2 separate regions of the Homo sapiens genome follow, and region 1 is linked to region 2. Evidence: fine-mapped expression QTL. Tissue or cell type: lymphoblastoid cells. Region 2 holds a variant in brackets; the other region holds the start of a gene. All regions are shown on one strand. Distances are from middle to middle.

Region 1 (5,384 bases), 26 kb before region 2:
AGTCCACTAACCATCCCCAATAATAATAACCTCTAATCTTTATTGTACTCTACAGTTGTAGAGCGCTTTCATATACAAAGCCAATGATATTATTTCTCACTTTACAGTTGAAGAAACGAGCCTGGAAATGCTAAGGGATTTGCCCAAGTCTGTATAGCTGGTAAGGAAATGGCAGGACTGAGATCCTAATCTAATGCTCCTCCTACACTGTTGCCTCATGAAATGAAAATAAGGTTGGCATAGACTCATTTGTCAAAGATGTTCATTCAAACATTATTTGGTGCTTACTATGTGTTAGGCACTGGGGATTCAGTTAGTACCCTCATGGAGATTGTAGTAAGTGGGGAATATAGTCTATCTGTGATTATCTGAGTTAAGAGGAATGATTAAAATGATTGAAATTAAAGTTCTTTATGAGTTTTCTGATCCATAGCCAACAGAACATAAAAAGTTGCAAATGTGGCCAGGCGCGGTGGCTCACACCTGTAATCCCAGCACTTTGGGGGTCGAGGTGGGTGGCCCATGAGGTCAAGAGATCAAGACCATCCTGGCCAACATTGCAAAACCCCGTCTCTACTAAAAATACAAAAATTAGCTGGTCATGGTGGCACACACCCATAGTCCCAGCTACTCGGGAAGCTAAGGCAGGAGAATCACTTTAATCCGGGAGGTGGAGGTTGCAGTGAGCTGAGATCGTGCCACTGCACTGCACTCCTGGCGATAGGTGGAGGCTCCGTCTCAAAAAAAAACAAAAATGCAAATGTATTCCGTAATAAGAGAGAAGAGGCAGAAAGAGGCGTAGAGATTCAAAGGACAAAAAAAAAAAAAGTTTAAAAAAAAGAAATGGAAAAAAGGCCAGAATAAAAGCCAATTCTCAATAAATGTTAGACCAAGCTTGTCCAACCTGCAACCCACCGGCCGCATGCAGCCCAGGACGGCTTATGAATGCAGCCCAACAACACAAATTTGTAAACTTTCTTAAAACATTTGACATTTTTTTTGCTTTTTTTTTGTTGTTGTTTTTAACTCATCAGCTATCGTTAGTGTATTTTACGTGTGGCCCAAGACAATTCTTCTTCCAATGTGGGCCAGGGAAGACAAAATATAACACTCCTGTGTTAGAAAATGAGAACAACCAACATGTTTCTACTCACAGTTGTTCACATGGACACAAAACTGCCTGATTCCATTAGAATCCATGAAAACTCTTGAAGGAAACGGGGAATTACTCCTGAAGATAACAGAGTTGTCTACACAAACCCAGCTTGAAGACCTGTGAGGAAAGAGGAGGGAGAAGATATATTTAGAAGGGGCGGGGCAGGTCCAAAAAAGAGTGTCCCAGCAATATCGGCCAGATGATGCCAAAGAGGACTCCTTGGGCACCTATAGGACGACACGAAGGTCTTATTCTACTGGCCAGCCCTGCTCTAGAGAATCAGAAAAGGCAATTCCTAGGAAAAACCAAGGGAATGTCCTAGGAGTGGAAGTACGGGTGGGAGGCACAAAGACTAACTCTTCTTACATCCAAATGTTACCCGTTGTAGGCCCCAAACCCCTTTAGGATTCAGTCTGAGCAACGAAGCTCACCTTACGCTGCCTGGAAGGCAGAAGGAGAAAACTGTCCTCGGATGGAGAAGATAGCAGTCCCTGTCGCAGCAGCAATTTATATCGCAGGCTCCAGGAGTCAAGTCACAGACACAGATCGGTAAGACTATGAAAGTACGACACAGAGTGAGTGGGATGAAGATCCCCAAACTCTCCCAGGTGCTCACCCTCCTTCTTCCGACAGCCCCACTCCTGCTTTGTGGCAGCTCAACTTTGCTCACAGAATTTTAGATCTCAGAAGTAAGTTTCCACCCCCACAACGTTTTCCCTCACCTGGGAAGAGGTCCACAGTCCTATTCCCAGGGGCCGAGGGAGTCACGAGAGTAGGGACCACTGTAGGGAGTCCAGGCACGGCCGGGCGAGTTGCAGTCGCCTCTGAAGGGGACTGGAGGGTTCCGCCATCCGTCCCTCGCTGCAGCTCCAAAGACGTGGGCACTGCCCCTGATGGGGAGGAAGAGGGCTGAGGCCGGACGCCATCGGGGAACACCAGAAAGAACACTTGCAGGAGCGCGAGCTGTGGGGTGCGCATGGGGCATTCAGGGCCTCCGGGTCCGACGTAGGCCTCCGCGGTCTCCAATCGCATTGCCAGAGCGTGGGTGGGAGGAGTCGCATAGCGTCTGACGCCATCCGCGTGCCTCTTCTCATTGGCTCATGAGAAGGCTGAGAGCTCTTCAACCAATCGAAAGTGGGGTTGTTACAGCTCTTTCAGTGTCCTTCGGTCTGCGCCCTCCTCCTTAACGCGGGCCGGGCCGTGCCTCCGTTGCCTGGCAACCGTCAGTGACGAAGAAGCCCTTGCGCCTTCCTTCCGCTAGGTGGCGGTAGGAGTTCGGCGGACCGAGAGGTTCCGCGCCCACTTCGCGGCCCAGAGGACTGAGCCCGGCCTCCGGTGCAAGGAAACCCCAGAGGCCGGAACTAGAATTGCAAATTTTTTTTCACCCCGGATTCCAACGGTGAGAAACCCTTTCTATGGAAGAATAATGTTCTCAGGTGGGGGAAACACACCTAAGGTCACATACCTTAAAAAACAGTCTCCTCTAAATATGGCTTTTTTAAAAAAAAAAAAAACACATTAGAAATAATGTTCATTCAGCTCCTTACATTTTAACATTGAGAAATTTTGAAAACCCTAAAGAAATGCATCAAATCATTAAAGATGGACTGCATGTTTGTTGTTAGAAAAAGCAGTGAGAGAAAAATAAGAAAAAAGGGCAGGAAAAATGTGAGAAAATAGGGAGAGAAAGAATAAAAAAAAGAAACATTGTCTAGGAGGTGAGAAAATAAGATGGAGGAATGGAAATAGAAGATTTTTTTCCCCGTGTTAATGGCAAATTTTTTAAGCCTCTCTAGGAGGTTTTTGTTCTTCCCGGGAATGGCGTGCCTCTTCCGATTCCCCACAGCAGCGCGGGCCATGGGACTTTCCTTCGGTATTGGAAATGTACCGTAGCTGCACTGTCCAGCATGGTAGTCACCGGCCTTATGTGGCAATTGTGCGCTTGAAATGTGGCTAGCGTGACTGAGGAGCTGATTTTTTTTTTTTTTTTTTTTTTTGAGACGGTGTTTCGCTCTGTCGCTCAGGCTGGAGTGCAGTGGTGTGATCTCAGCTCACTGCAACCTCTGCCTCTAGGATTCAGGTGATTCTTCTGTTTCAGCCTCCTGAGTAGCTGGGATGACAGGCACGCGCCACCACGCCCGGCTAATTTTATTTTTATTTTTAGTAGAGATGGGGTTTCACCATGTTGTCCAGGCTGGTCTCGAATTCCTGACCTCAAGTGACCCTCCCGCCTTGGCCTCCTAAAGTGCTGGGATTACAGCTGTGAGTCGCTGTGCCTGGCCTGAATTTTTAATTTTTAAATTGTAATTAATTCAAAGTTAACCACAGACGTGAGTAGCTACCATATTGTACAGTGGGACTGTAGATGATCAAAATATTGCTCCTCCTAGACCCAGTATTTTCCTATGTCCACGGTTCTGACATCTGGATTATTTTGGATATTTAGTTTTAGTATATAAATTAACATCTGTTAAGAGTTATCTAAAATCTAGTACACTTACCTAAAATCTGGTCAACACCTCCCTTTACAAGTGAATCATTTAACTCAGGTAAGTTTTAGGACATTTGACTTTACTTGAATTCTCTTACAAGATCTTTATTTTCTAATGTTTTGAAGTCAGTAGCTAAAAGTCTCTCTGTGTTATAAATATTTTCAAATATGTTTTTATGTTGTTGTGTGATAGACAGCTATGGGAGATATGTGTTTGGTCTTAAAACATTTATTTACCTTATTAGTAATTTCTATAGGAAAAGGCCAAGTTCATATTATTCAGATTATATGATCATATGTATATACTAGAATGTAAATTCCAAAAATAGTGAGTTTTGTCTGTTTTGTTCATTGAAATATCCCCATGCCTAGAACAGTGTCTGGGACATGTTAGATGTGCATTAAATATTTTAAAAATATATTAAAAATTGTTTTGTTGAACTCTTTAGAATTAATCCTTAGGAATATTTTTAGTTTATTTTATTTCAGGATTGTATTTCTTTCTATAAAATTTCTTCTTTTTGCAACCAATTTACCATGTAATGATCTTTCTATAAAATTTCCATTGTACATCTGATCAGAGACTATTTTAGATTTCAAAGTTTGGAATTTAAATGGCAACTCTCAAATAGTGTTAAATTATTTCTGAATTTATTAGCGTTGGCAAAAGACTGTTGGTTGAAGTAATTTTAGAGATGAGTGATAAGGAAGTAATGTTTCCGGATCTTTTTGAGTTGCTTTTTCTTATTTTTGAATTTTAACACAACTTTTTTTTAGAAAAGTTATTTTTTTCTCTTTTGTTATAGTTAAGCAAAAAGATTATTTGTATTGCTGTTTTTTAAACTTGTTTTATTTATTGATTTAATTAATTAATTAATTAACTTATTTGAGAGAGTCTTGCCCTGTCACCCAGGCTGGAGTGCAGTGGCGCCATCTTGGCTCACTGCAACCTCCACCTCCCAGGTTCAAGCAACTTTCCTGCCTCAGCCTCCCTAGTAGCTGGGACTACAGGTGTACCCACCACACCCAGCTAATTTTTGCATTTGTAGTAGAGACGGAGTTTCACCATGTTGGCTAAGCTGGTCTCAAACTCCTGACCTCAAGTGATCTGCCTGCCTCAGCCTCCCGAAGTGTTGGGATTACAGGCATGAGCCACCGTGCCTGGCATGTATTGCTGTTTTGTATTTGTAAGAATCTCTGTAATATAGAACTCTCAATACTTTTGAGATCCAGTATTAAAATCTGAAAGATAATTTTGTGGATGAAGAATGAAATTTATTCACATGTGTCATGCAGATGTCAGGTTTAGTATGGGGACCAAGTCTTAAATTGAGATCATATAATATCATCTCAGAAGCAGAGATTTCCAAATTAGATCATATGATACTAGCAGTTGTCTGTGTTTGGGATTAAAAGAGTTTAATATGTAATTGGAAATTTAGCAAGGAGATTGTACTGAGATGGCAGACAACAAGTTCTGTCCTTTTCCCACTTCTCCCCCCTTTTCCAAAAATCTCTGAAAATTACAGAAAACTTAGATACACACACACTTGTGCATACATGAACATGCCCAGAATTGAAATACATGAAGGTGTGCTCTCATGGGCCAGACATTATAAGAATACTTGAAAAATAGAAGGCACATGGGATGGAATTGAAGGTGGACAAACAACAGTTGCATAATAAAGGCCTTATACAGAAATGGAAGTGACTCTTGGAGTGCTCTAAGCACACAGA
Region 2 (5,384 bases):
TTCTCTTTGTGTTTATCTTACACACATTGTTCATTGAGGTTCTTGGATCTGCAGGGTTTTTTTTTTTTTTTTTTTTTTGCAGTTGCAAGATTTAATAGAGTGAAAACAGAGCTCCCATAAAATGGGAGGGGACCCAAAGGGGGTTGCCGCTCCCTGCTCAAATGCCTGGGTTTATGTCCTGATCATTGTCCCTCCACCTGTGCTCTCAGGTGATATATGATTTGACTCTTTCTTTACCTCCTGCTTTAGCCTAATTTGTATTCTAGCGAGCCCTCTTTACTACCTGATTGGTCAGGTGTGAGCTGAGTTGCAAGCCCCGTGTTTAAAGGTGGGTGTGGTCACCTTTCCCAGCTAGGTTTAGGAATTCTTAGTCGGCCTAGGAAATCCAGCTAGTCCTGTCTCTCAGTACCCCCTCTCAACGGGAAAACCCAAGTGCTGTTGGGGAGGTTGGCCGACAACCGCTCTTAACTGCTTCCTGCTGAATTGGGGCATGATAGGGGTCGTGCAGTTGAGATTTCCTCAGGAGGGGTGCCTTCAATGCCATTAACATCAGAGCATGGGCTAGCAGGCCGGTCCAGGGGTCTGCAGTAGATCTCAGTCATGGACAGCATCTGGGGCTCCATTTGAAGAACGATTTGTAATTTTACAGCTTCGATTCTGGAAGAGGCAAACTTAACAAGGAGCTTAAACATACAGGGATTGAAATGTATGGCCTGAAGTGCAGGGGCATATATGGGTGTGGGCGGTGAAAGTGGGGTTTCCTTTAGAAAAACTCCTATATGATGGGGCATCAATATTTCCAGGAAGCTGCATTCTCCATGGAAGCTCTTGGTAAGGGGAGCTACTGGTAGTACAGTGGCATGGAGGAGGTGCAGTGAGAGTGAAAGTTTTGGGTGAAGGGTTTTAAGTAATTTCCACTGGTTAGCTGCAGGCAAAAGTATTTTTCCTTCTTCGGTGGCTAGCCATCCTGAGGGGAGGAAACTATGTCCTTGTGAGGTTCCCCATTCTATGTCTTCTGCTGAGTACTGGGGCTTGGTTTCCTGGAGGGGATTACCCCATACTAGGGGTCCTTCTATAAGCATTTCTAATGGAGGGGGTCCTGCCTTGCAGCTCTTCTGGCTTCAATATCCTCTTGGTGGTTCCCTTCTATTTCCCTTTCCTTTCCTTTCTGGTGACCCCAGCAGTGTAAGACTGCCACCTCTTTAGGTTTCTCTGTACAGCCAAGAATAATCTCCTAATGGCTTCCTGATGTTTGATAGGTGTTCCCTCGGAAGTTAGGAATTTCCTTTCTCTCCATATTGCTGTGTGGGCATGGAGAACTAGGTGAGCATACTTAGAGTCTGTATATATATTTACCCTTTTTCCTTCTTCTAATTCTAGTGCCCGAGTGAGGGCTATTAGTTCTGCCAGCTGAGCACTAGTTCCTGGAGCGAGGGGATTACTTTCAAGTATTCCATTATTACTGACCACTGCATACCCCACTTTTCGAAGTCCTTTTTCTACAAAGGAACTTCCATTAGTATACAAGTTGAGGTTGGGATCAGTTAAGGGAACCTCTAGAAGGTCCCCTCGAGTGGCATAGGTTTGAGCAATCACCTGTTGACAGTTATGTTCTATCTTTTCTTTATTATTTGGAAGAAATGTGGCTCAGTTAAGAGTTGCACAAGTGTGCAGTTGCAGCACTGGCCCTTTAAGTAATAGAGCCTGTTATTTAAGCAAATGGTTGCCTGACAGCCACAAGTCTCCTTTAGCAGTGAGTATGCTGTTCACATCATGAGATGTCCACACGGTAAGATCTCTTCCCTGTATTATTTTAACTGCTTCAGATACTAAGACTGCTACTGCCACCACTACCCGTAAACAATGAGGCCAACCTTTTGCCACTACATCAATTTCCTTACTTAGGTAAGCCATGGGTTGCAAGCTGGTCTCTCGGACCTGTGTAAGGATTCCTAGAGCTATTCCTCTTTTTTCTGTGACATATAAAGAAAAGTCTCGCTCCGTTGGCAAGCTTAATACTGGGGCTTCGGTTAGGGCCTTCTTTAGGGCCTGGAAAGCCGCTTCTGCTTCAGGTGTCCTTCTTACTAAATGGGTATTGGCTTTCTGAGTTTCCTTAATTAGTGTATATAATAGCCTGGCTATTTTGCCGTACCTGGGAATCCATATTTGGCAGAAGCGTGTTATGCCAAGGAACCCTCGTAGTTGCTTTAGGGTTTTGGGATGAGGATAAGCCAGTATAGGCTGGATACGTTCCTTACTGAAGGCCCTGGTGCCTTTGGATAATTTTAGCCCTACGTATTTAACCTGCTGTGAGCAGAGCTGAGCCTTTGGTTTGGAAACCTTGTAGCCACAGGTGGCGAGGAAATTTAAGAGCGTTTGGGTGGCTTGATGGCACAAGGTTTCTGAACGGGCGGCTAAAAGTAAATCATCCACGT[A/G]CCAAAGGACAAGAGTGTCCAGGTATGAGAATTGACTCAAGTCTTGGGCTAATGCTTGGCCAAATAGATGGGGGCTATCCCTGAACCCTTGGGGTAAAACAGTCCAGGTGAGTTGAGACATTGGGTTCGAAGGATCTTCAAAGGCAAACAAGAATTGAGAGTCAGGATGTACAGGGATGCAGAAAAAGGCATCCTTAAGGTCCAGGACTGTAAACCACTCTGCTTCCTCTGGTATTTGGGAAAGCAGAGTATAAGGGTTAGGTACAGCTGGGTATGGAGGGACAATGGCCTCACTGATAATCCTGAGATCTTGCCCTAACCTCCACTGTCCATTGGGTTTCTGTACTCCTAAAATTGGAGTATTGCAGGGGCTATTGCATGGTTTTACTAGGCCTTGGGCTTTTAGTTTCTTAACAATCTTTTGGAGTCCTTGTTGGGCCTCGGGTGTAAGGGGGTACTGCCTTTGGTAGGGAAAGGAGGCAGAATCCTTTAGTTTAACTTGAACAGAACAGGCATTCTTTGCTCGTCCATATTGTCCGTCTGTTGCCCAGACTTCAGGATTAATTCCTTCCTCAAGCAGAGGGCAACAAATGGGTGTTCTTTTCCTGTGTTCAGGTGTATAATGGCCGCTGCTTTTGCTAGAATGTCTCTCCCTAACAGGGGAGTGGGGCTTTCAGGCATAATTAGAAAAGCATGTGAAAGAGTAATGTTCCCCAGTCACAACTTAGTGGTTGGGAGAAATATCTAGTGACTGGCTGTCCTAGGACCCCTCGGATAGTGACAGATCTGGAGGACAGTTTTCCGGGACAAGAGAGTAAGACTGAGAAGGCCGTGCCAGTGTCCAGGAGACAGTTAACCTCCTGGCCCTCAATGGTCAAACATACCCGGGGCTCTGTGAGGGTGATGGCATGGGCTGGTGCTTGCCACAGGCACCCTCATTCCTGCTGCTGGATCATCTGGTTAGTGGCTTCTGACTCAGAGGACCTTCGTCCCCTGGGGCAGTGGGCCTTCCAGTGATTCCCTTGACATAAGGGGCATGGACGAGGGGGCAGCTTATTTCTATTTGGACAATCTGCTTTAAAGTGTCCTTGTAGACCACACTGGAAGCAAGCCCTATTAGGCATTCGATTTGCTCAGCCTTTCTGTGTTCCAGAGCCTCCAAAGTCCGCTTGCCTGAGGGCCATGACTAAAGCGGTGGCCTTTTTCTTATCTCGTTAGTCCAGTTCCACCTGCTCCTCCTGATCTCTATTATAAAAAACCGAGGTTGCCAAGTTCAATAGGGTTTTTTAAGTTTTGCTCCATGCCTAAGGCGGACTTTTGAAGTGTTTTTTTTTATGTCTGCAGCTGACTGACTGATAAACTTATCCTTTAAGACTAGTTGGCCTTCAATAGAGTCAGGTGACAGAGAGGTATGCTTCCTCAGTGCCTCCCTTAGTCTCTCCAGAAAGGCAGTAGGATTTTCTTCCTTTCCCTGTGTTATAGTGGACATCATTGAATAATTTATAGGCTTCCTCCTAGGTTTCCCTAGTCCTACTAGCACATAAGTTAGCAAATGTCTGTGGCACCAATCTCCATGTTCTGATTCTGCATCCCAATGAGGGTTTACACTGGGAACTGCCTGCTGGCCTGTGGGGAATCATTCTCTTTCCTCTGTTGTCATCCTATCATTGACCTGACTGAGATACCAGAGATCGCCAAACTCTCAGGCTGCAGTTATGGTGGCACTTCTCTCATTTGGGGTTAGTGTCTGATTTAGCAGTAACATTATATTTCTCCATGTCAGATTAAAGGATTGTCCTAACCCTTGTAAAACATCAATATAGCCATCAGGGTTATTTGAGAATTTACCTAGGTCTATTTTAATTTGCTTTAAGTCTGACAGGGAAAAAGGTACATACACTCTGACTGGGCCGAATTCTCCAGAATACATCTTAGGGGCGTTTTTGCCTTAGGGGTAATGTTTCCTATCTGAAAAAAAAAAAACCGGGATGCCATCACCCCTAGTCATTCTCTGATGAGCATTAGTGCTAGAGCGTCTTCTATGGTCCTAATGCTTATTGCTTTCCAGGGTGCGTAACTACCCATGGACCTCTGCTTATCGGGTTAGTTACGCTTACCAAGTAGCAGTCCTGCACCCCTTTTCCCGCCTTTCTTGACCACAAAGAAAAGGGTCCAGGCTGCTGTATTCTAGTGGTCCTTTACCAGCATGCCCAACATTGCCTTTGTGCTCAGGGGTGAGTTGTAGAGCTGGGCTGGGTTCCTGAGTATTTCATAACAACCCAGTTGCCCCATCAAGATACATTCCAATAAATAAAACAGTTCTTATGCAAATTTGTGTCAGAGAGGGTGTAGGTAACATTTTGAGTCAGGATTGAGATAGATTTTTTTGATTCTATAAGTGCTTTAAGACTTGGCTGAGTGAAAACAGCTCGAACATTTCAGCAAACCAATTATTAGGCAATTCTCCTAACTCTGCTTCCACAAGAGTCTCCCTATCAATTACTGAATACCCATTGTGGTTTTTTTTTTATTATCCCAAGTTCATTGTTTTTTTGTTTTTTTTTAATTTTTTAATTTTTTATTTATTATTATTATACTTTAAGTTTTAGGGTACATGTGCACAATGTGCAGGTTAGTTACATATGTATACATGTGCCATGCTGGTGTGCTGCACCCACCCAAATGTCCAACAATGATAGACTGGATTAAGAAAATGTGGCACATATACACCATGGAATACTATGCAGCCATAAAAAATGATGAGTTCATGTCCTTTGTAGGGACATGGATGAAATTGGAAATCATCATTCTCAGTAAACTATCGCAAGAACAAAAAACCAAACACTGCATATTCTCACTCATAGGTGGGAGTTGAACAAAGAGAACACATGGACACAGGAAGGGGAACATCACACTCTGGGGACTGTTGTGGGTTGGAGGGAGGGGGGA

Evidence for each region. PIP is the estimated chance that this variant, and not a neighbour inherited with it, causes the effect.
Region 1: TCTN3 starts here. The variant in region 2 is fine-mapped to the expression of TCTN3 in lymphoblastoid cells (GTEx, PIP 0.93).

What each region holds. Positions count from the first base shown.
Region 1 is chr10:95,691,766-95,697,149 of GRCh38, forward strand. It overlaps TCTN3 (tectonic family member 3), which reads right to left and starts at 2,162. Exons shown (of 14, transcript NM_015631.6): 1 at 1,879-2,162; 2 at 1,588-1,711; 3 at 1,155-1,273. The coding sequence starts at 2,134. It also overlaps a transcript of ENTPD1 not described here. RefSeq lists enhancers at 1,867-2,146, 2,621-3,122.
Region 2 is chr10:95,717,282-95,722,665 of GRCh38, forward strand. It overlaps a transcript of ENTPD1 not described here. Among named protein-coding and RNA genes, the nearest start is that of TCTN3, 26 kb to the left of the region's middle. The variant A/G (reference allele first, on the strand shown) is at 2,436.